Homo sapiens: one gene and its partners. The protein of the gene in region 2 purifies or fractionates together with the protein of the main gene of each other region. This does not show direct contact. Each region holds a gene or a part of one and is shown on either strand. Other genes may lie near its edges.

Region 1 (5,689 bases), about 120 Mb from region 2:
CCAGGAGCAAAGGGAGAGGCCTGGAGGCTGGGAGAGGTGAGATCTCCCAGCAGAGTCACACAGCTGACACCTGGCTCTCCTAGGGCCCAGGATGAGTCTTGAGGGAGGGGCAGGGGTGTCTGGGCTCGCACTGAGGGCATTGCAAAGGTCAGGCCTGGCTCTTGCAGTGGAGTGGGTAGTGATGCCCCTTTGCCCCCAGAGAGCCTTCCAGCCCTCACCTCCTTCCATTTCCCGGATGTCCTGGAGGAGGAGACCCAGGCTGAGAACCAGTGGGTCTGGCAGCCTCCTGTGTCTCTGCAGATGCGGGAGAACCCAGAGCTGGTGGAGGGCCGTGACCTGCTGAGCTGCACCAGCTCTGAGCCTCTGACCCTCTGAGAGATGATGTCCTGCCCAGGCCCGATGGCCACTAGGACCCTGCAAGCAACTCTGCTCTGTGACCAGGCCAGGATTCCTGGAGCTGGCCTGAGAGGGCTCAATGGACCCTCGGGGACCCAAGTGGGGCTTTCAACCCTCTCCCCCACCACCCAGCCCACTGCACTGAAATGAGACTTTATTCTGAAATTATTAAAAAGAACAGAGATGCTCCATTTGGCTGCATGCAGGGGGGGCGGTTGGGGGGACAGAGGGGAGGACAGGGGCTCAGCCAGGGGGACCGTGTCTCTTTCCCACGCAGGACACTGTGCATGGGGCTCTGGGTGCATCTGCCCATCTGTCTATGGGCCTGTGTGTGTGTGAGAGGCCAAACACAGAGAGCTCCGTGGGTCTGTGTGTATCCAAGTGCTAAAAGGCAGGCTGGCTTTCTGGGGCCCACAGCTGGCGGGCTAGTATCCTGGAAGGTTTCACTTGGTGGCTTGGCCTAGGGACCAGCAAGGGCTGGGGTGGGAAGGGTGGCTCAAGGAAGCCTCTTTCTCCAACTCCACACCCCTAGAATCCTTCTCTCCCCTCCAGATAAAAAGTCTCCTCCCCTGGGCATGACTCCCCCCACCCCGCAAGCTGAGACCTGCAAGAAGGGGACTGCCCCTTTGGGGGAGGGGTCGGGCCTTGGGGCTGGTGGGTGGGTAAGGGGGCCTGACTGAGGGGCAGACCAACCCAGCCTGTGTCTCTATTGTTGCCTCTGGGATTGGGGGGTGCTAACCGCTTACTTGCTTTGGCCTGGGGGTACCGCAGGGTTCCCTTTTCCGGAAGCCCCCCACAGGGCAGACCCGGGGAGAAGGGCTTCCCCAATCTGGCCCCCAGCCAGAATACACACAAGGGAGTGGAAGCTAAGAGCCGGGAGGGGGCCGGTGAAGGGAGGGAGGAAGGGGAACCTGGCTCCTCTCAGAACTGGGAGGCGCTGCTGGGGTCGCACTGCAGCAGACGCACGATGGACGGGTCGCTTTTGGCCCCGCGGATGAACTCCTCCAAGGACAGCTTGCCTGCAGGGCGAGGGGAGCGGTGATGGGGGAGGAGGCGGCAGCCTAGCGAGGGGAGGCGGAGCGGGAAAGGGAGGCAGGGAGGGAGGGAGGGAAAGGCGCCCGCCCCGTCCACCCCGTCCCGCCCCTGCCCCTCACCGTCGTTGTTTGTGTCCATTTGGCGGAAGATTTTCTCAGTCCTCTTTTCCGGGGTCGACTCGTCCTCCGGCATCTTCATCACGGACGAAACCATCTTGTAAATGGCCTGGGGGCGGGAGGGGAGGCGGGGAGTGAGAGGAGCCTGCCCGAGCCCCCACCCGCAAGATTCAGAGGCGCCCCCGGGCTCTCTGACGTTTGCTGCCCCCGCCTGGGCAAGGTGGAGTGGGGAATCACGGAGGCGTGGGGAGCCGAGGGCTTCGGGAAGGCGTGTCCGGGAAGGCCTCCCAGAAGAGAGGGCTATCGGGCGGGCCCTGCCGCGCTCCCTTGGAGGGCTGGGTGGGAAAGGAGCAAAGGCGCCGCAGGTGGAAGCTCCGAGCGGGCGCAGGGGTCAGGAGAGATGTTGGAGGACACCGGGGCCCGACAGTGGAGGGCCTGGAGCGGCGGGCTCAGGAGCGCGTGCCCCGGGGCACGCGCGTCGGGGGTAAGTACCGGGCTGGCACCCGGGCCCAGGGCGGCCCGCGCTCGGTGGTCGAAAGGGGGCGCCGGGCCAAGGGGGCGGCACTGCGCTGCGGGGCCGTCTGCTGCCGGCAGGGGGCGCGGCGCGGGCTGGAGGGCCAGAGGCAGCTGGGCCCAGAGGGGCGGGGAACAGTATGCAAATGAATGCAAATGAGCATCTGCAGCGGGCAGGGACCGCCAGGCTTGGCTAGGCTGGGCTGGGCAGAGGGCGGCAGCCGCCACGTGCAGTAGCTCCCGAGGCGACGTGAAAGAGAGTTCTTGCGCTAAATGTACAGAGCACGTAGGGCTTGGCCTGTAGCCTGGGTCGCAGTGCCTTGGAGCTCAAGGACCGAACCTGTCTCCTCAATCTTCCAGCTTTACCCGACCGACACTTCCTCCAAGAAGCCTCCCTTCTCCCATCCCATAAACTTCTGCTGCCTCAGATCCAGCTTCAGCCTCCACACTGGTCTCTTCCAGCCTCTGTCCCTCGGGTCTGTCCCCCATGCTGCCTCTGAAAGCTCTTTCCGAACACAGATCTCCACTGTTACGTCCCCAGCCTGCACACCACCCCCTCACTCCCGTCACACACAGGCCTCCTCTTAGGCCCGCCTTGCACCCAGCTCCTGCTGCTGCTTCCCACTTCTCCTTGGGGCTCAGTTTACAAGCTGTTTTCTTAGCGAGGTCTTCTCCAACCCAGGCTGGGTCAGGGTGCATATGGGCCCAGAGCCTGGCGGACTTTTCCTTTGCAGACATCTCTCCAGAAGTAATTATGTCTTTGCAGGGTTGTTCCTGCAAACATGGACGTCTAGCTAATGCCCATATCCCCAGAACCTGGGACCAGGCAGGGACTTCCCTATTTAAAAGCCATTGGCACTTCCCACTGCCCTCTGTACCAAGTTCAAACCATTCAGCCCTTGGGATTTAAGACGCTTTACAATCTGTCCACTGCTGACCCTCCTCCATCAGGTCTCCCCTGGCTGGGTGATTCTGCCAACAGCCAAACACCCCTGGCCCTTCAGATTCTCCAGCATTTACAGTCTTTGCCTGGAATAACGATACTAAGTACCACTTATCAGGGGCCCGCTCTGTGCCAAGTACTTCACATGCACTATTTCTAAACCTCACGCAAGCCCTGAAAAACAGGTATCATGATCCCCATTTTCCAGATAAGAAACTGAGGCTCAGAAGGAAATTGATGGCAGAGACTCGATTTGTACCTGTTCCCTCTTAGCTGCTGGAGGGATGCTTGGGCAGTGTGGGGTGGTGATAATCAGCAGGGCCTTTAGCATTAGACCCGGTCTGTAGTAACTGCTCAATGAATGGTAGCCACAGTTGTGACTGGATATCACTACCTGTCTGACCAGCACATGAATAGAGGGGTCTGGTAGTCTCAAGTTTCTAAAGTTAGATGGACCTGGAGTGGTGTCCTGGTTGAACTACTCACTAACTGTGTAGCCTTGGACATATATGTATCTGTGAGCCTCAGTTTCCTCAGATTAAATGAGATTATGTGTGAGGAACCGTGGCTGGCTAGAGTGGGTGGTCAGTAAACAGCAGCTCATATTATAGTCATTATTCATCCTCCACATCCTCAAGTCTTCCCTGCCACTCAGTAGTCCCCTGGTTCCCAGATGACACCTTTACACCCCTGTCACTGAGCTTGTCAGTGTGACCTACACATCTGTCTCCCCCACCAGAGTGGGAGCCCCAAGAGGCGCAGTCTCTTCCTCTCCAGTGTGTCCATTACCTGGCAGAGGGCTGGGTCTTGAGAAGAACTGGGCCAGTGACCAGTAACCCTGTGATAGCCTTCTCCTGGGCCTCCTAACTAATTGTCTGGAATTGCTGCTTACTCATGGTTTCATGGGAGCCAACTTGTCATTAATCAGGCACTGGGGCTTGCAGAGCTCTGTGTGCACCAGCTGTCTGGGGCCCCCGGGCCGCCCTAAAAGAAGCCAGGGTCTGGATAGCAGAGGCCACCAGAAAGGGGTCCTGAGGATGCCCAGGGAATGGGTCTAGCTTGACTGACACCCGGGCGTGGTGGCTCCAGCAGGACTGGGGTTTACCAGTACACACCAGTGCAACACACTAAGTGGTAAAATGCCAACATTCCTTCAGATAGTCAGTACCCAGCTGCTGTCCATGTCCGGGTGATCCTCCACCATTCTGGCCACCTGGCCCTACCATCAGGACCCCCAGATCCCCCTACCATCAAGCAACTAAAGAGTCAAATGCCTGGCTCACAGGAGTCCATGGCAAACATTAGGGCTTTCCCCTCTCTAGCCATAGGTATGGGGAGGGCATCACATCTCCACCTGGAGAGAAGACCCAGACCTTAGCAAGAGGAGAAGCCAAAGTCAAGAGTCCAGCAGTGGCTGGGGCAGCAGTCTGTGGAGCTGAGGGACCAGAAGGGAAAGGATTCAGAGATGCAGAAGGAAAGGGGGCAAGAGCTTGTGCAAAGCTGCGTGACAGGATTAGTCAGGGCACATTTCAAAGATGCTGAAAAGGCCCTTCTGGCTAGAGCAGAGGATGTGCAGAGGAGAAAATAATAACAGACAATTGCTAATGTCTACCAAGTACCAATTATATGCCAAGCCTTCCGCTCAAGTCCTTATCTCACTCTATCCCTGCAATAGCCTTGTGAGGCAGGGGATTAACACCCCCACTTTACAGGTGAAAAAATGTGTAAAGCCTTAGGAAAAAGGCAGATAAAATAGAGCCAGAGCCCTGGCCATCTTCAAGGCTGGGCTGAGGGGATGGGTGGTTTCTGAAATAAAGCTAACATGCAGCACACTTAAACTTGTACTAACAAAAGGCATTTATATCCGGTCCTTAAATCTCCTTGTGAAGTCAGTATGAGCGTACAGATGAGCAACCTAAGATTGAAGGCCACTTCCAGAACTGGAAGCCAGACCTCCTGGCTATGAGTCCAGAGCCCTCTCAGTAGACAGCTCTAAGTAGTGGCCAGCCAGAGCTTTTCTCCACTTATGTGCTGTGTGATTTTGGGCACATCACCTCACCTCTCTGAGCCTCATGGGGTTGTTGTAAGCACGCACTGAGCTCATGAGCACCTCACTCAATGCTAGGCTCATAGTGGGCCCTCAATCAATTAGTTAGAAGATGGCTGGGTATCCAGATGGAATGTAGACAGTGGTGCCAGATGGCCCACTCACACAGGCTGTGTGGCCTCAAGCAAGTGCCTTTATCTCTCTGAGCATCCGTTTCCTCTGGTGTAAATGAGGATCAACTAGACATAGCTGGACTGTGCTCTGCAGAAATGTCAATTCATAAAAGATAAAGAAAGGATGAGGAGCTATTCCAGATTAAAGGGGGCTAAAGAGACATGAGAACTAGATGCAATGCATGACCCCAGGTCAGGGCCAAAAATGCTATAAAGAACATTATGGAGACAGTTGGCAAAATTGGAATATGGTTGGTAGATTAGATAATAGCATTGTTTCTATGTTAAATATCCTGGCTTTGGTAATCATATTATGGGTTATGTAAGAGAATGTGCTTATTTTTAGGAAATATATCCTAATGTATCCAGGGGTAAAGGGCCAATGTTCAGAACAGCAAGAAAATGTTACACACTAGTGTGCACACACGCACACACACACTGATAATGATGAAGCAACTGTGGGAAA
Region 2 (7,682 bases):
CTGGAGGTCTTGGTGATTCTGGATCTAAGGAAGAAAGTCATACACGTAAATAGGCTAAATGAAAGAGACTAGGCAGAAGCAAAGGACAAGGGTAGAAGAGTAAGATTTCCCTTCCCCAAGGAATCTTGAGATGAACCCCTTTGTCTTTTAACTTACCACCCCTAGGACTGCTATCTGCTTCGTGTCGGGTTACTGTAGTCTCTGTCCGGCCCTCACTGTCCACCACAGTCCGGCGCTCCTCCACTATCTACAAAGAGAAGTCCCCACCATATTCCGAATGTTACTAAAGGTTATGCTCAGCAGTTTCTTTACACAGATCCCTGTTTCAGGGCATTCGTTCCCTGGCCATACTTTCCTTTACCTCTTTCTTTCAACTCACCCCATCTGGTTTAGTGATCTTGGTCACAGAGATGCTCTTGAAATAGGATTTGGGCTGGGGCTGTAGAACCGGGCCAAGACCCTCCTGGGAAACCTGGGAATCAAGATCTGGAAGAGCAGAGAGATGAAGAAGCAGGAGAGAAAGAGTCCAAAGGAAAAAAGGAGACAAGTGTACAGGAAGAAACTTCAGGGAGGGAGAACACACAGAACTTCAGAAGAATAACAAAAGGCTGGTAAACTTCCCCTTCCTCCAGACTTACCATTGTCCTCTCTGGTTCTAGGATGGGGGTCCATAGGCCATACATCATCAAACTGCAGAAGAAACCATAGTAAGTGAAAAGACTCCTTCCAATCTGAAATTTGAAAGGTCATAGACCTCAAACTACTCCCGAGCTCCAAAACCCCCTTCCACAGAAGAGATAATTCCATTCAGAATAGCCTTATTTACACACTCCTTCCTGGCTGTTTTATGTATCCTTCTACCAGAAAGACTTCCTGAACTGATATATTCCTATCCTCTGTGCACAATCCTGCCTTATCCAAGAATTATCTAGACCAGTGGTGTTTTTTTGTTTTTGTTTTTTAAAAGAAACAGAACACCCATCTCCCCCCAAAGAAAATCCCACAAGCTTAATATAGAAAACAGAAAACACTAAATGGAGGGCTTAGGATTCCAACCCAAGGCTATCAGATTCAAACAAGAATTGCAATCTTTGGCCAGGCATGATGGCTCACACTTGTAATTCCAGCACTTTGGGAGGCCGAGGTGGGTGGATCACCTGAGGTCAGGAGCTCAAAAGCAGCCTGGCCAACACGGTGAAACGCCATCTCTACTAAAAACACAAAAATTAGCTGGGCGTTTGGCAGGCGACTGTAATCCCAGCTACTCAGGAGGCTGAGGCAGGAGAATCACTTGAACCTGGGAATTGGAGGTTGCAGTGAGCTGAGATTGTGCCACGGCACTACAGCCTGGGCAACAGAGCAAGGCTGGGTCTCAAACAATTTTTGAGATGGAGTCTCCACCTCCTGGGTTCAACCAATTCTCCTGCCTCAGCCTCCTGAGTAGCTGGCATTACAGGCACCTGCCACCATGCCCGGCTAATTTTTTGTATTTTTAGTAGACACGGGGTTTCACCATGTTGACCAGGCTGGTCTCCAACTCCTGACCTCTGGTGATCTGCCCACCTCGGCCTCCCAAAGTGCTGGGATTACAGGCGTGAGCCACCGCACCTAGCCAGTCTTTGCACTTTATTAGTGGTCTCTCACAAGCTCTCACTTCAGGACCAGATGGGATACTCACCCTATGAAATGGCCTCTGGGAGCCCCAGTCTGGTGCTGGTTGGGGGGATTCACTTCTTGCATCACTCTCCAAGACCCCCCCAAAGATCCTGGGCTGGTGACTATCTGGATACTTAAGCATTGAGTCCCGAAGTGTCTGTCCCTCCCGTAGTCTCTCACCAGGTGTCTCTGACTCAGGACCTGGAAGTTCTGCAGAAAGGTGGCAGGTGTTTGCTGGGATGGGAAAGGACTTGGGCTCTATTAATCTCTCTGAAATCATCAGTCTTCTCACACTTCCCATCCCCCAGCTACTCCCTGCAGGCTCTTTATTTCACCCACCAACCCACCAGAAACCACAGGTTGCCCCTTAGGGAAAGCCACACACCAGGAGGATGGGAAGGCAAGGTCCAGGCCCCCATATCGCTGAAGATGCTATTGAAATCTCGTACTAGGTCATCAAAGCCGAAGTTATCGTGGAAACGTATCCCTCCTCCTGGGCTGAAGCTGAAGCCGAAGCCAAATTCCTCAGGGGGGTGCTGAGGACTATGGAACCTTGGGTTCCCACGGCCCCATGAGCCCCCTTCTTCTTCTTCTTCCTCATCATCATCTTCATCTCGAGTCATCCCTCCAAAAAAGGGATCTCTGTGGCTGAGAGTGGAGGCAGATTGGCCACCAATATTTCAGCACTATTTAAGCCATTAAATCAACTCATGGGTGGCAAAGTGGGACAAGAGCAAGGGGTCTGGGAAGCTAGGGAGAGGGTCGGAGGACTGGCTGCCACATCAAAACATTAATACAATGGCTGACAGTTCTTTTTTTTTTTTTTTTTTTTTAATCAAAGTCAGACCTCAGCTCGCAGCTCCCTTCATACACCTTCCCCCAGTTTTTCTTCAGTGTGCCCCAGTCCCTCCTCTCTCTCCCAAGGTCCTGCTCACTTGCTCACTGTCTTATTCCCCAGACCCTCACGGTCTTCCCCGCCCGGGTCCCTGTTGCATCACCCCAGGTTGGAGAAAGGCTTAGTTTGCTGTTTCTCCTCTTAATGACCGCCTTGGTTACTGTGGCGGGGTGAGTGTTCAATGTTGCGACTTCTGTCCTCTCTGCAGGAGTTGAAGGAGTGGGACAGAGGATGTTTTTCCAAAAATAAGACGTAGGGGTCAAGCTCCCCTCAGACGACCCCCACCCTTGTCCGAGCCGGACCTACTCTCACCTCCGAGGTCCAGGAAAGCCGAAAAAGCCCCGGAAGAGATCAAAGAGGCTCATTCCCGTACTGGGACGCGAACCTTTGAACCCCTCCAGTGGTCCATTCGCAGACGGGGGAAACCTGCGCAGCCCTGTGAGAAATTGAGCGAGGCGTCAGCCCACGCTACCGGAAAGCAAGCCCGCGATCCTGACACTGTCGTAAACGACGGTAAGCCGGACGTGAAATGGAGGCGGGACCGAAGGTCTTCCTCAAATTTGAAAGGCTTTATCTTTACCCCACCTTTCAGAGACCAGTTTCCGTGACGGGAGTGGGCGTGACGCACTTTCAGTTTCCTATGACCGCCTTCCTCCTAAATCTGTTCTTCTTTCTGCAGACCAACTCAGTACGAAAAGCGATTTCGAGGGTTTGACTCTGGATGGCACCCGGATAAAGCCGCCAGAGGGCAGCCCAGCCGCACAAATGGACCGGCTTGAGGGCGTCCCTCAACCACCCCACCCGCGGGGCTGGCCAGCCTCACAGCAGAAGCCACCTCGCTCCTTACTCGGGCGTTCTTTTTGACTGACCTGGGCGATGTCTGCTGTTAGAGGGATGAACAAAATGCTTTTCCAAGCTCCTTCTAGTATTGAATTTCCCAGAGAAGAGATCAAGACATAAGAGACGCATGGACTTAACTTCCTCCACCTCTCTAGCTACTAGGGAGTTTGTTATAACTATATAGAATTCTTTTTTCTAAGCAGGCTCTGCAACCAGCAAGACAAAGGATTTTTAAGAAAGCAAGGGAAGGGAAGCTAGTTGAGTCCTGAGAAGGAACAAATTGGGGGTTATAAAGAAATATCCCTTTGGTATCTTTTTTTTTTTTTTTTTTTTTTTTTTTTTGAGACAGAGTTTTCTCTCATGTTTCCCAGGCTGGAGTGCAGTGGCACCATGTCGGCTCACTGCAACCTTCGCCTCCCAGGTTCTCTCCTGTCTCAGCCTCCCGAGTAGCTGGGATTACAGTCATGCGCCTCCACGCCCGGCTACTTTTGTATTTTTTGTAGAAACGGGGTTTCACCATGTTGACCAGGCTGGTCTCGAACTCCTGACCTAAGGTGATCCGCCCAACCCAGCCTCCCAAAGCGCCTGTCCTCATTCCTTTTTAAAAGTGTTTTGTTCAAAACCTCTCCGAGACCTGTCTCTCCCTGTACCCCATCCCCAAGCCAGACCTTGCTCTAGATTCTTTTTCAAAGAATTGGGTATAGCTATGTCACAGAGAAGCATCCAAGAAGCCACTACTACAGTAGTCCATTCCTAGGGGGAATGGGCCCCAAGGTTTTGTTTTTTTATTTCGTTTTTGGGGTACAGGTGGTGTTTGGTTACATGGATGAGTTCTTTAGTGATTTCTGCGACTTTAGCGCACCCATCACCCGAGCAGTGTACACTGTACCCAATATGTAGTCTTTCATCCCTCACCCCACTCCAAGATTTAGTTCTGCCAGACGATACATGTTGCCTTCACTTCTTTTTAGTTTATTTGCCTGGACCCATCTAAGTCATACTTAAAACTCTATAAAGCATTTTTTTTCTTTGAAATGGTCTCAGCTCCTTCTTGATCCTCTCCATTTTCCACCCAATCTCCTCTATCCCTCTCCCTTTACTGCCTGAAATCGGCTGTAGATGTAGCAGTTTCTGGAGGAAATGAAGATTTGTGGTGGTTCTTTCCAGTCACCAGGTTGTGAAAGTCTTAGGGGTGAGGGGAAGGAAATCCCCTCAAGGACAAGATACTACTACCACATTAAGGTCAGGAGTTCTTAAAGGGCGAAGATTTCATTTTATTCCACTGCCTTCAGGGGCCTGCTAGAGGAGGCCCAGTTGGTACAGTAATACTTATTCACCAAGCTGGTCATCGACGAAATTGAGGATGTCCTAGACGGAGCAAGAATAGGCAGAGGCTGAAGGTAGAGGTTTTCTTTTTATATATACAAGACACATTAATCCATTAAATTTGAGGACACAGTACAAAAAAAAAAAAAAAACAAAAAAAAAACCACTTCAACTAATTCATCTGACAATGCTGTTCATATTCATGACGCCATTTTTTTGTTTGTTGTTGTTGTTGTTTTCCTAATAATAAAGAAGGAGACTTAGGGCTGTTGGGCTGATATATGTTTGGGGGTCCCACCTCCCCGCCTCATCCGTACACCACCAGGGTGAACAGGAGGAAGCAAAGGAAGTGCAGGGCCCATAGCAAAGTTTCATAATCTTGAATGCAAGAGGGGAGAAGGAATGGAAGGGGGAAAAAAAAGGAGAAAATACAAATCCTATAATACATACAACAGGGTGGGGATGGTATAGGAATGGGACAGACATGAAGCTGAGGCATGGGGTGGGCCGCTGGGGGTGGGGGGCAGCGGAAACCCCCCACATTCCTTTCTCTTTGATGCTGTTTCCATAGTTTCCAGGCTGAGAAGCCCTCTCAGAAGATGGGACCGGGAGAAGAGGGTCAGGGCCTCAGTTGGCCCCCCAGCTGTAGCTGTTGTAGGCAGACTTGTTGGTCTGGGGCTTCTGCGGGATGGAGCTGGTCTGGCTACGTTGCCCGCTGCCCGTCTGCAGGGGAATGGGAGGATCATGAGGAGGAAAAAGGTGTCTAGTTAGTGGTACAAATTTGTAACATCTTCAGGTGGAGATGTGCAAACTGTCTTGCTCTCCCATTCCCCTCACTACTATTAGAACCATAGAAAATTTGGTCTGCATAGCTGCTAAAGCCCCTTTCTTACAAGCAGGAAGGCATTTTTGACTTTTAAATAGGGAAAAGATGAAGAGGGCAAGATACCTTTAGAGACAAGGTAGTGAGTGAGTTCTACTCATTTTCAATTCTACATTCTCACACTACCCCCTCTCTCCCCTGCTCTTGGAGATGGGTGATCACAAGGCAATTTCATTTCCATTGATCCCCATTAATGCCTCAATTTGGAAAGCTGTCTTTGAGGAAGGAAGCCCTTATTCTAGCTCCAGCCACCTATAATGGAGCTCTCAAGAGGCCACTTGCATCGCCCCACAGATCCCCACCCCTACCACACATCACATCTGTGAGCCCATTTCAGGCAGGTATGAGAGGCAGTCTGAGGCCTCAGGCTCCAGATGCTGCCCCAAGAATCTTTTCCATTCTGGTAACCGAATGTTTTCCACAGCTGGGGAAGGGTACAAAGATAAAGAGGGTGTTGGGGAGGGGAGGAGGAGAGAGGAAGGGGAGGCCAGAGAGCTCAGCAAGGTGTTTGTGTTTGTGTATCCCGATTTGTGACCGCGCAGTCTTTTCAAGTTCCCTGAGGCTGTGAAGGTGAAATGGGGACTGAAAAGGAGTGGGTTCAAGCATATGATCATTCAATTTCATTACCTGCTCCTCCTGCTGGCGCTGGCAACAGAGAATCATCTGCAAATATGGTAGCTGAGGCAGAACCAGGATATATGGAAAATAAAGGGACAAACTTTGACAATAGAACTCCACCATTAGAAGGGAAAGCTAAAATGTCAGGGAAGAGGGAAGGCTGGGAGAGGAAAGAGGGAAGGTGTGACCCAGGTCTGATGGGATGAGGACAACTGTGGCACAGGAGGAGAAGGGCACCAAAGGAATTGGGCAAAAAAGGTTTCAACCCGGCCCTTCTCTGAGATTTCCTTTGCCGGCCGCTCGTGTTATGTGCGCTTGTGTCTGTATGTGCTGTGTGCCCATGACTGGCGCTGGGGAGGGATTGGGTGAAGGTGGTGGTGAGGAAGGGTAAGAAAAGGAAAGGGAAGGCAGTTTTAAGGGATAGGAAGGAAGAGGAAGGGAAAGGAGAGAAGGGGAAGGGCTATTACCTGGCCATCCTGCTGCAGGTGATGGTGAAGGATCTGAGAATGCGGCTGCTGATGGGGGGTCAGAATGTGCATAAAGGGGGCAGGTGGGTAGGCAGCAGCTGTGGCCGGATTGATGGGGCCCCCACTTCCTAGGGCTGAAGGCAAGTTGAAGGAAGCAGCAGGAGTACCGGAATGAAAACCTTGTTTCTCAAAGGACTGCTATCCAGGAGGCCAGGAGGAGACAGAGTAAAAGGGATCAGCAAACTAGTCTTGGGATTTTTCCTGAGCTCAAGCTCCCTGACCCTCAGAAAGCAGCATGGTGTCACAGAAGGCACAGTACACTTGAAGTCACATATTCAGGTCTCAGTCTCAGCTCTGCTCTTATTTAAGAACTGTGTGAACCTGGGCATACTACTCAATCTCTTAGCCTCAGTTTCCTCAGATATAAAACAGGGATGCTACAAACCTGTTGTAAAGACCAAATAGGCTGGGCATGGTGGCTCACATCTGTAATCCCAGCACTTTGGGAGGCCAAGATGGGTGGATCACACAAGGTCAGGAGTTTAAGACCAGTCTGGCCAATATGGTGAAACCCCGTCTCTACTAAAAATACAAAAATTAGCCGGGCATGGTGGCGGGCGCCTGTAATCCAGCTACTTGGGAGTCTGAGGCAGGAGAATCACTTGAACCTGGGAGGTGGAGGTTGCAGTGAGTCAAGACTGTGCCACTGCACTCCAGCCTGGGAGACAGAGGGAGACTCCATCTCAAGAAAAAAAAGAAAAAAAAAGGCTGGGCGCAGTGGCCCATGCCTGTAATCCCAGCATTTTGGGAGGCCAATGCAGGCGGATCACCTGAGGTCAGGAGTTTGAGACCAGCCTGACAAACATGAAGAAACCCCGTCTCTACTAAAAACACAAAATTACCCGGGCATGGTGGCACATGCCTGTAATCCCAGCTACTTGGGAGGCTGAGGCAGGAGAATCGCTTGAACCCGAGAGGCGGAGGTTATGGTGAGCCC
Region 3 (7,033 bases), on a different chromosome or scaffold from region 2:
ATCCTGAAAGCTCACAATGTGCACTGTTTTCCATTTATTCTAGCTAGGCCTCTTCCTCCACTTAGTAGCCATCTCCCCAGCTGCCTTTTTCTCCCCGAATTAGTCCAGAAAACACTTATTAATCTCTTACTGTATTATTTTCAAACAGCCACATTATCATCCCTGCAGCAGGCTTCTCCGCTTTTTTCTCTATCAATCTGTAAAGCATTTATGGAGCACGTGCTGTAATTCCTTCACCAACGTCCACTCACCAACGTGTTATCTTCCTGGTTAAGTTTGCTCCATTGAAGTCAGCAAACATCAATGAGGCCTCTGCTGGATATAGGTAATCACCCTCCTTTAGACTTCCGGTCTCCACTCCAGCCCTCCATGCAGGTCCTTTGCGTCTGCTTCCTTCTTTCCATCAAGCATTTATTATCTATGGAATACTGACAAGTCCCTTCCCCTTTCCATAATCACAAATTCAATGTTTTCCATTTTTTCTTTGTCCAGAAAACATTTATTGAGCACCTGCTGAATTCAGTGAAAGATCCATCCCTTCCCCTTCTGCATCTCAGAAGCCCCCCTTTATCCCAGCATCCCCTCCAGTCTTTTCTTCCAGGCAATCTAGCAAATATTTATTTAGTGTCTACTATATGTGGGGTGGGGTGGACAAAGGGACAGAGCCTATGTATGTACGCCAGGCTCAGTGTGGGGAACAGAGACCTGTTTTACCAACTTGCAGACACTCAGAACCACACTAGCTTCAGGGATTTCAGCCCCAAATAAAGCAGGAGTTGTGCAAACTCTGTGATGGAATGTACACCGAAATACAGTCTGACGCCTTTTCCACCAAACCTCACCACCCTCATTCCTTCCTGGGTCTCAATTCCTCTGTGGTTTAAAGTTGAAAACTCTAAGTTGAGACTCATCTCCCCCATTTTGTGGGTAATTTTGTCCTGTGTTTTTCTTTCTTTTTTTTTTTTTGAGACGGAGTCTTGCTCTGTCGCCCAGGCTGGAGTGCAATGGCACGATCTCGGCTCACTGCAACCTCCGTCTCCTGGGTTCAAGCGAGCCTCCTGAGTAGCTGGGACTACAGGCACATGCCACTATGCCTGGCTAATTTTTGTATTTTTCGTAGAGATGGGGTTTCACCATGTTGGTCAGGCTGGTCTCAAACTTCTGACCTCGTGATCCACCCACCTCGGCCTCCCAGAGTGCTGGGATTACAGGCTTGAGCCACCGTGCCCGGCTCTCTGGTGTTTCTCAAACTATGGGTCACCTATTGGCTTATGACCAGCATTTCACTTTCTTCTTGAAGTAGGATAAATAAAAATAGAGAATAACAGAGCATATTGCACATAGTAAATGGAGTTGTTGTTTAGCAAAACATATAATGTTATTCCATTAAGATATACAATCTGTAATGTATATTATATATGACATACGGTATGTAATACATGTGTTATACAATGGCTTTACAGTACATAATACATCTATATGTATATGTTCTTCTTCATGAAATGAAATAAAATAGCATAGAAAAATCAGACTGCATTACACATAGTAAAGGTAATTATCTATTGAAACTTTAATTCCAGTTATGCATATGTATTTATATACATTCTAAATACATATACACATAATATGTAATATACAACATTTTATATGTTACATAATATATAAGACATTCTATATTCTCATATTTGCTGTACAACATATGTGTCTTATATAATACATATATAGGATGAGTTATTATGCAAATACATATATAGTGGGTTATATAAGCTTTATTTCTTACTGTGGCTTCTTTTCTCAGATATATTTCCCTGGAAGCAGACCCCGAGACTCTGAGATTTGCATGCAGATTTACTGGGGAGAGCGCTTGGGAATAACACCTGTGGGGGAGGTTGTGAGGGAAGCAGGATTGTGCAGAGGGAAAAGTTGAGCTGTGATGCAACCACAAAAGAGGCCTCGGCCAATCCTCTGGGGAGCTCTGGCACTGGAATGACCCTTCAGAGTTGTCCCAGTTGAAGCGGGGTGGCCAGGCTTTGAATTCCTATGTCAGTCATTGGCTGTAGGCTGCCCCCTGGGAGGAGGCGTAATCTTGGGTGAGGCAAATCCCTGTTGCAGAGGCCAATGCCCAGTGAGGGACACCTATGAGCCATCAGCAGCGGATAATTCCAGAAGCTGAGGATAGATGCAAAGGTCTGGAACAAGGAGGTAAGGATCTGGGGGGAGCATATAGTCCACACCTTGCACTGCTCCGATCCACTTCCTTCTTATAGTAAGTTCACCCCATTGGGGAACGGCATTTCCAGAATTCTAATCGGTCTTGTTTTCTCAGGGACACTTGAAAGAGCACGGTAGTGAGATGAGCCATAGTCTCTGCTGCTGCAGTTGATTTCAACGTCATAAATGATATTCATCCTCTCCTTCTTTTGTTACCCATTCTAGATTCCCCCCACCCTCAGCTAGCACCACTCTTGGTCTGGGTGGCTCCCATCCTGCAGAGATCCCTGAGCCTTTGGTCCCCATGCCCTTCTCAGGCTGTAGCTGCTGTACAAACAACCACATTTCCCATTTACTATCAAAGTTGAGCAAGGAGTACCAACAGATGCCCAAGTGGATCCCCTGGGTGCCAGACATACTCCTCCCTGCCTCCACTGTGTACCAGCAGCTCTACCTCCTCCTGAGGAGCAAGGTTGGTCACGTCCCCTGCCAAGACAATGGCTCCTTTTTATGTCCCTTGGCATGAGAAACACGAAGTGCCCTGAGGGCAATCATAGCTTACAGTTTAATGGGATTCTTGCTGTGTCCCCTGGTAGCAGTGTTCCCCCTTGGAGAACCAGGACCTCTAACCTTGCAGAGCCCTGAGGGAACAGGAAGCACAATTTCAAAAGTGGATCACTGGGATTGCTGGTAAGCTGGGCCACTCCTTCCTAACCTCTGTGTCCCCAAACCGGTGTATTCTACCTGTTAGGAACACAGCACCTACAATGGCCATTGATTTAGGGTTGACACTGTTTTGGAGGATGGTGCCCATTCTTGCATGATCTCACCTTCAACCTGGGATCTTAGCTGTGGCTGCACCAAATTGTTCCATCATTCCATCAGGCCAGCAGCTCCCGGGTGGCGTGGTGTGTAATACCATCAGTTAATTCCATGGTCATGGGCCCACTTTTGCACCTCCTTTGCTTTGCATTCCTTTACTTTGCTATAAAGTGTGTCCTTTGGTTTGACGCAGTGTTATGCAGGGTCTCGTGCTGGTGGATCAAACGTTATGTAAGCCCTTAGACAGTGAGCTGGCTGAGGTCCTGCAGTAAGAAAAGGCAAACTCAAATATGGAATATTCCAGTCAAAATCGATTACTGTTCTTTGCAGGATGGAAGGGGCCCAATCTAATCAGCTTGCCACAAAGTGGTTGGTTGGCCTTCTGGAGGGATGGTGGCGTGTCAGGGATTCAATGTTAGTCTCTGTTGCTGGCAGATTGGACATTCAGCAGTAACACTGCTGCCCCCACACATAGCTTCTCTCTCTGCTGCTATTGCCACTTATTCATGTGCCCATCTGCTAACACTGGGGTGGCTGATTAGAGCCTGGCTGACATCATCGGGCTGACTCATGCTGTCTACCTGGTTGCCTAGTGTCACTTCCATGGCGCCATGGCAGATGCTGTCTGGTGGGTGTTAACACACGATCCAAAGATCCTCGCTCCTCCCTTTTTTTTTTTTTTTTTTTTTTTTTGGAGACGGAGTCTCGCTCTATTGCCCAGGCTGGTGCTGTGGCACGATCTTGGCTCAGTGCAACCTCCACCTCCCAGGTTGAAGCAATTCCCCTGCCTCAGCCTCCCGAGTAGCTGGGATTACAGGCGTGCGCCACCACGCCCGGCTAATTTTTGTATTTTTAGTAGAGATGGGGTTTCACCACATTGGCTAAGCTGGTCTTGAACTCCTGACCTCAGGTAATCCGCCCACCTCGGCCTCCCAAAGTGCTGGGATTACAGGCGTGAGCCACCGCGCCCAGTCTCACTCCTCATTTCTTGCCCACTCCTAGGTGTCTGCCCACATTTCTGTATCCCAGACCTCTTTGTCTGGATCTTCCAGTCTTTTTATTTCCAGGCCCCTGACCAACCAGCCAAACCATTTACCACTGCCCATAAGTGGATATATGTATTCTAATCTTGAGGCACTTCTCTTTCTGCACAAAGGAGATGAGCAGGTGCACAGCCTGAAGCTCTGCCCACTGGGAGCTCTGCCACTGTCTTTCAAGGCCATTCCAGTTGGGTTATAGTGCAACCACTGCCCATTTTTGGCTTCCACCCACATACTAAGACAACCAATTTGTGAACCAAGCTTAGACCTTTCCCTCTTTCATCAGCTAGTTTTAAGGAGTCCCCTTAGTGAGACAGGCACTAGCACAACAGTGTGGAAGACATGGGGATCAGGGTTACTTACCTGCTCATGCACCTTGCTTGGTTCTGCTTGGGCTCAATCCTGACTGCTGGGCCCACCTGACTTTATTATTTGGCGGGCCCAGCAGGACCCAGCTTATAATGGGAACTTCTGGATGCACAATCATTTGGTGCCTGGTCAAGCATTCTGTCTCTATCAGGGCCCAGCACCTCAATGGGGTGTCTTTCTCAAAAGGCGTAAAATTCTCTGCTGCAGATGGCATGGCTTTGCTCCAGAACCCCAAGGGCCTCCCACTCAGGCTTCCCATAAGCTCCTCACTGCATCTTTCCCCACTACTGACACCTCCAGTATCATAAGATCTGCCAGATCATCTGGCCTAAATGGCAGGACTGCTTGTACCACAGCCTGGACCTGCTGCAGAGCCCTTTTCTGCTCTGGCCCTCACACAAAGCTGGTAGCTTTACATGTCGCCTGGAATATGGGTCAGAGCATTATTTGTGTGTGGGGGACATGCTGCCTCCAGAATGGGAAGAGGCCTCCTAGGTATTGTGCTTTCCTCTTCATGGTGGAAGGTGCGTGATTCAATGCTTTGCTCTATTCTTTGGAGGGGCTGTCCTGGTTTACTGCCCTGGACCACTGGATTCCTAAAAATTTTACTAATGCATCGGTCCCCTGAGTCTTTGTGGAGTTTATCCTCCACCCTCTGTAGTGGATGTGTCTTACCAGGGCAATATGCTCACCCTCTCTTGCTCATCTTGCACAATCAGTATGATGTAATCCATGTGGTGGTCCAGTGTGCTATTCCATGGGATGTCCAGATAGTCCAGGTTTCTCTGGACTATATTATGACACCAGGTGAGAGAGATAGCATAGCCCTACAGCAAGACCATCTATGAATATTATCATCAGTCTCATGTGAGTGTAAACTGTTTCTGATCCTTTTTTCTAATCAGAATAAAAAAGAATGCATTTGCCAAGTCAGCAGCCACCTGCTGTACCTGAGGTCTTATTAATCTGCTCTGGCAATGACAGCGTGTCCAGTATGGCAGGTATAACTAAGGGTACTACTTGATTGTGCTTGCAGTAATCTGCAAGCATTCTCCAGGACCCATCTGACCTCTCCAGGGGCCAGACTGCTCAACTCGATGGAGATAAGATGAGACCAACACCCCTGCATCCTTTAGATCTTTCAATGTGGCATTGATTTCCATCATCACCCATAGGATGCACACAATATTGTTTGTGGTTTATTGTTTTGTTCAGGGCATGGGGGTGTGCGCCATTTTAGAAGCTTCTATTTGGACTTCCCTACTGAAACAGCTCTTATCCCACAGGCTGAGGAGCCCATGTAGGGGTTCTGACAACTACAAAGTATGCCATTGCAATTACGCATTTGTGAACTGAGGAAGTGACCACTGGGTGGGTCTCTAGACCCACCAGACCCACTGTAAGCAGGACCTGGGCCAGGACTCATTTATCACCTTACCACTACTGTGCTTCTCAGCGTGACTGGTACCACCCTCACCAGCATGTTTCTTATTAATTTCATAAGTTGAGTGTATCCTCCAGGCCTTAATCAGCTGGTGGGTTTTCCAGACTTCAGTAGTATATCTACTCCAACATGTCTGCTTCTTTGAGCCCTTTAATCCTTCCCTGTGCAATCTGCCATGGAAGTTCTGCTTCACTTAGTGTGGGCCATTGTTTACTCCAGGTTTCCAAATACCAGTGTGTTAGTAACACTTCCTAGAGTCCTCGCCAGGGTTTTAAGTTCCGTATCCTGGGAGAGCACACCAACTTCCTGTTCTACCTCCTTCGCCCATTGTCCTCAGGATCCAGTCTCATGCATACCTTCCCAGCTCCTGCCAATACGTACTAGCCAGATTCTTTAGGTTCTTCTACAGATCATTTCTCTCCCTTTGCAAGCCTAGAACCTGTCCAGTCAGGTTTCACTAGGATTTCACCCTAATTTTTGGTCTGGTTTCCAGGAGGGTAGGTGGGGGGTAGACTCTGAGGGGGGCAGGCATTGTCTTACAAAGCACCTGCATCATCCGAGGCCTCTGCATTATCTTCAAGCAGAAGGTCTATATTCTAACTCAGGGGAGTAGTCTACTTCAGCAGGCCCAGTGGATGCAGGTGAGTCTGTAAGTTCAAGGTGTTTAACTGCATCTGCCCAGATATCCCCATCTCAGAGTCCTACTCCTGTCCTATTAGGGACATGAGCATGGCCCAGGAGATGTGCTGGGCCTGAGAAGTCAACTTTCTCCGAAGCTCCGCCACCACGTAGAATTAAATTCTGAGCCTGGCCCTCCCTTCTGTCTGCCCTCTGACTGCAGGAGATGAGGGTTTCCTTAAATGCAGTCAGGGAGATCCTCTGGCTTTCACATTTTGCCTTGAATTCACCCTGAGCATGTCAGGTCTTTCTTCAGCTACTCAATGGCGTTTAGGGAATAGTCACCCAAGTCTGGTTACCATTTCCCTGACATCACTCAAGTTCCAGGGATATTTCACCATCCAGTACATTCCCTTCCACCAGAATCCCATTACAGCCCACCATCAGGAAAAGTCACCGCTACTCCAAAACCCTGGGGGCCTGCGCTGTATTCTCCCACCTGGGAGAAGAAATTCCACACAGCATCTTT

The links. The genes of interacting proteins can lie anywhere in the genome.
Region 1: the proteins of HAX1 (region 2) and HPCA purify together in Homo sapiens (affinity purification with mass spectrometry; 3 studies listed by BioGRID and IntAct, with this or other methods). This does not show direct contact.
Region 3: the proteins of HAX1 (region 2) and SYN1 purify together in Homo sapiens (affinity purification with mass spectrometry; 3 studies listed by BioGRID and IntAct, with this or other methods). This does not show direct contact.

Annotation. Positions count from the first base shown.
Region 1 is NC_000001.11:32,889,491-32,895,179, reverse strand, and holds the end of HPCA (neuron-specific calcium-binding protein hippocalcin), read right to left. Parts: intron 1,657-5,689; coding exon 1,551-1,656; intron 1,416-1,550; coding exon 1,318-1,415; 3' UTR 534-1,317; downstream 1-533. Other genes in the region: TMEM54 (transmembrane protein 54), read left to right, coding at 247-375. UniProt on the Homo sapiens protein: Calcium-binding protein that may play a role in the regulation of voltage-dependent calcium channels. May also play a role in cyclic-nucleotide-mediated signaling through the regulation of adenylate and guanylate cyclases.
Region 2 is NC_000001.11:154,267,958-154,275,639, reverse strand, and holds the start of HAX1 (HCLS1-associated protein X-1), read right to left. Parts: upstream 3,012-7,682; 5' UTR 2,917-3,011; coding exon 2,864-2,916; intron 2,305-2,863; coding exon 2,042-2,304; intron 1,867-2,041; coding exon 1,679-1,866; intron 691-1,678; coding exon 639-690; intron 487-638; coding exon 380-486; intron 248-379; coding exon 157-247; intron 25-156; coding exon 1-24. Other genes in the region: UBAP2L (ubiquitin-associated protein 2-like), read right to left, coding at 5,345-5,440, 6,228-6,278, 6,686-6,883. UniProt on the Homo sapiens protein: Recruits the Arp2/3 complex to the cell cortex and regulates reorganization of the cortical actin cytoskeleton via its interaction with KCNC3 and the Arp2/3 complex. Slows down the rate of inactivation of KCNC3 channels. Promotes GNA13-mediated cell migration.
Region 3 is NC_000023.11:47,609,825-47,616,857, reverse strand, and holds part of SYN1 (synapsin-1), read left to right. Parts: intron 1-7,033. UniProt on the Homo sapiens protein: Neuronal phosphoprotein that coats synaptic vesicles, and binds to the cytoskeleton. Acts as a regulator of synaptic vesicles trafficking, involved in the control of neurotransmitter release at the pre-synaptic terminal.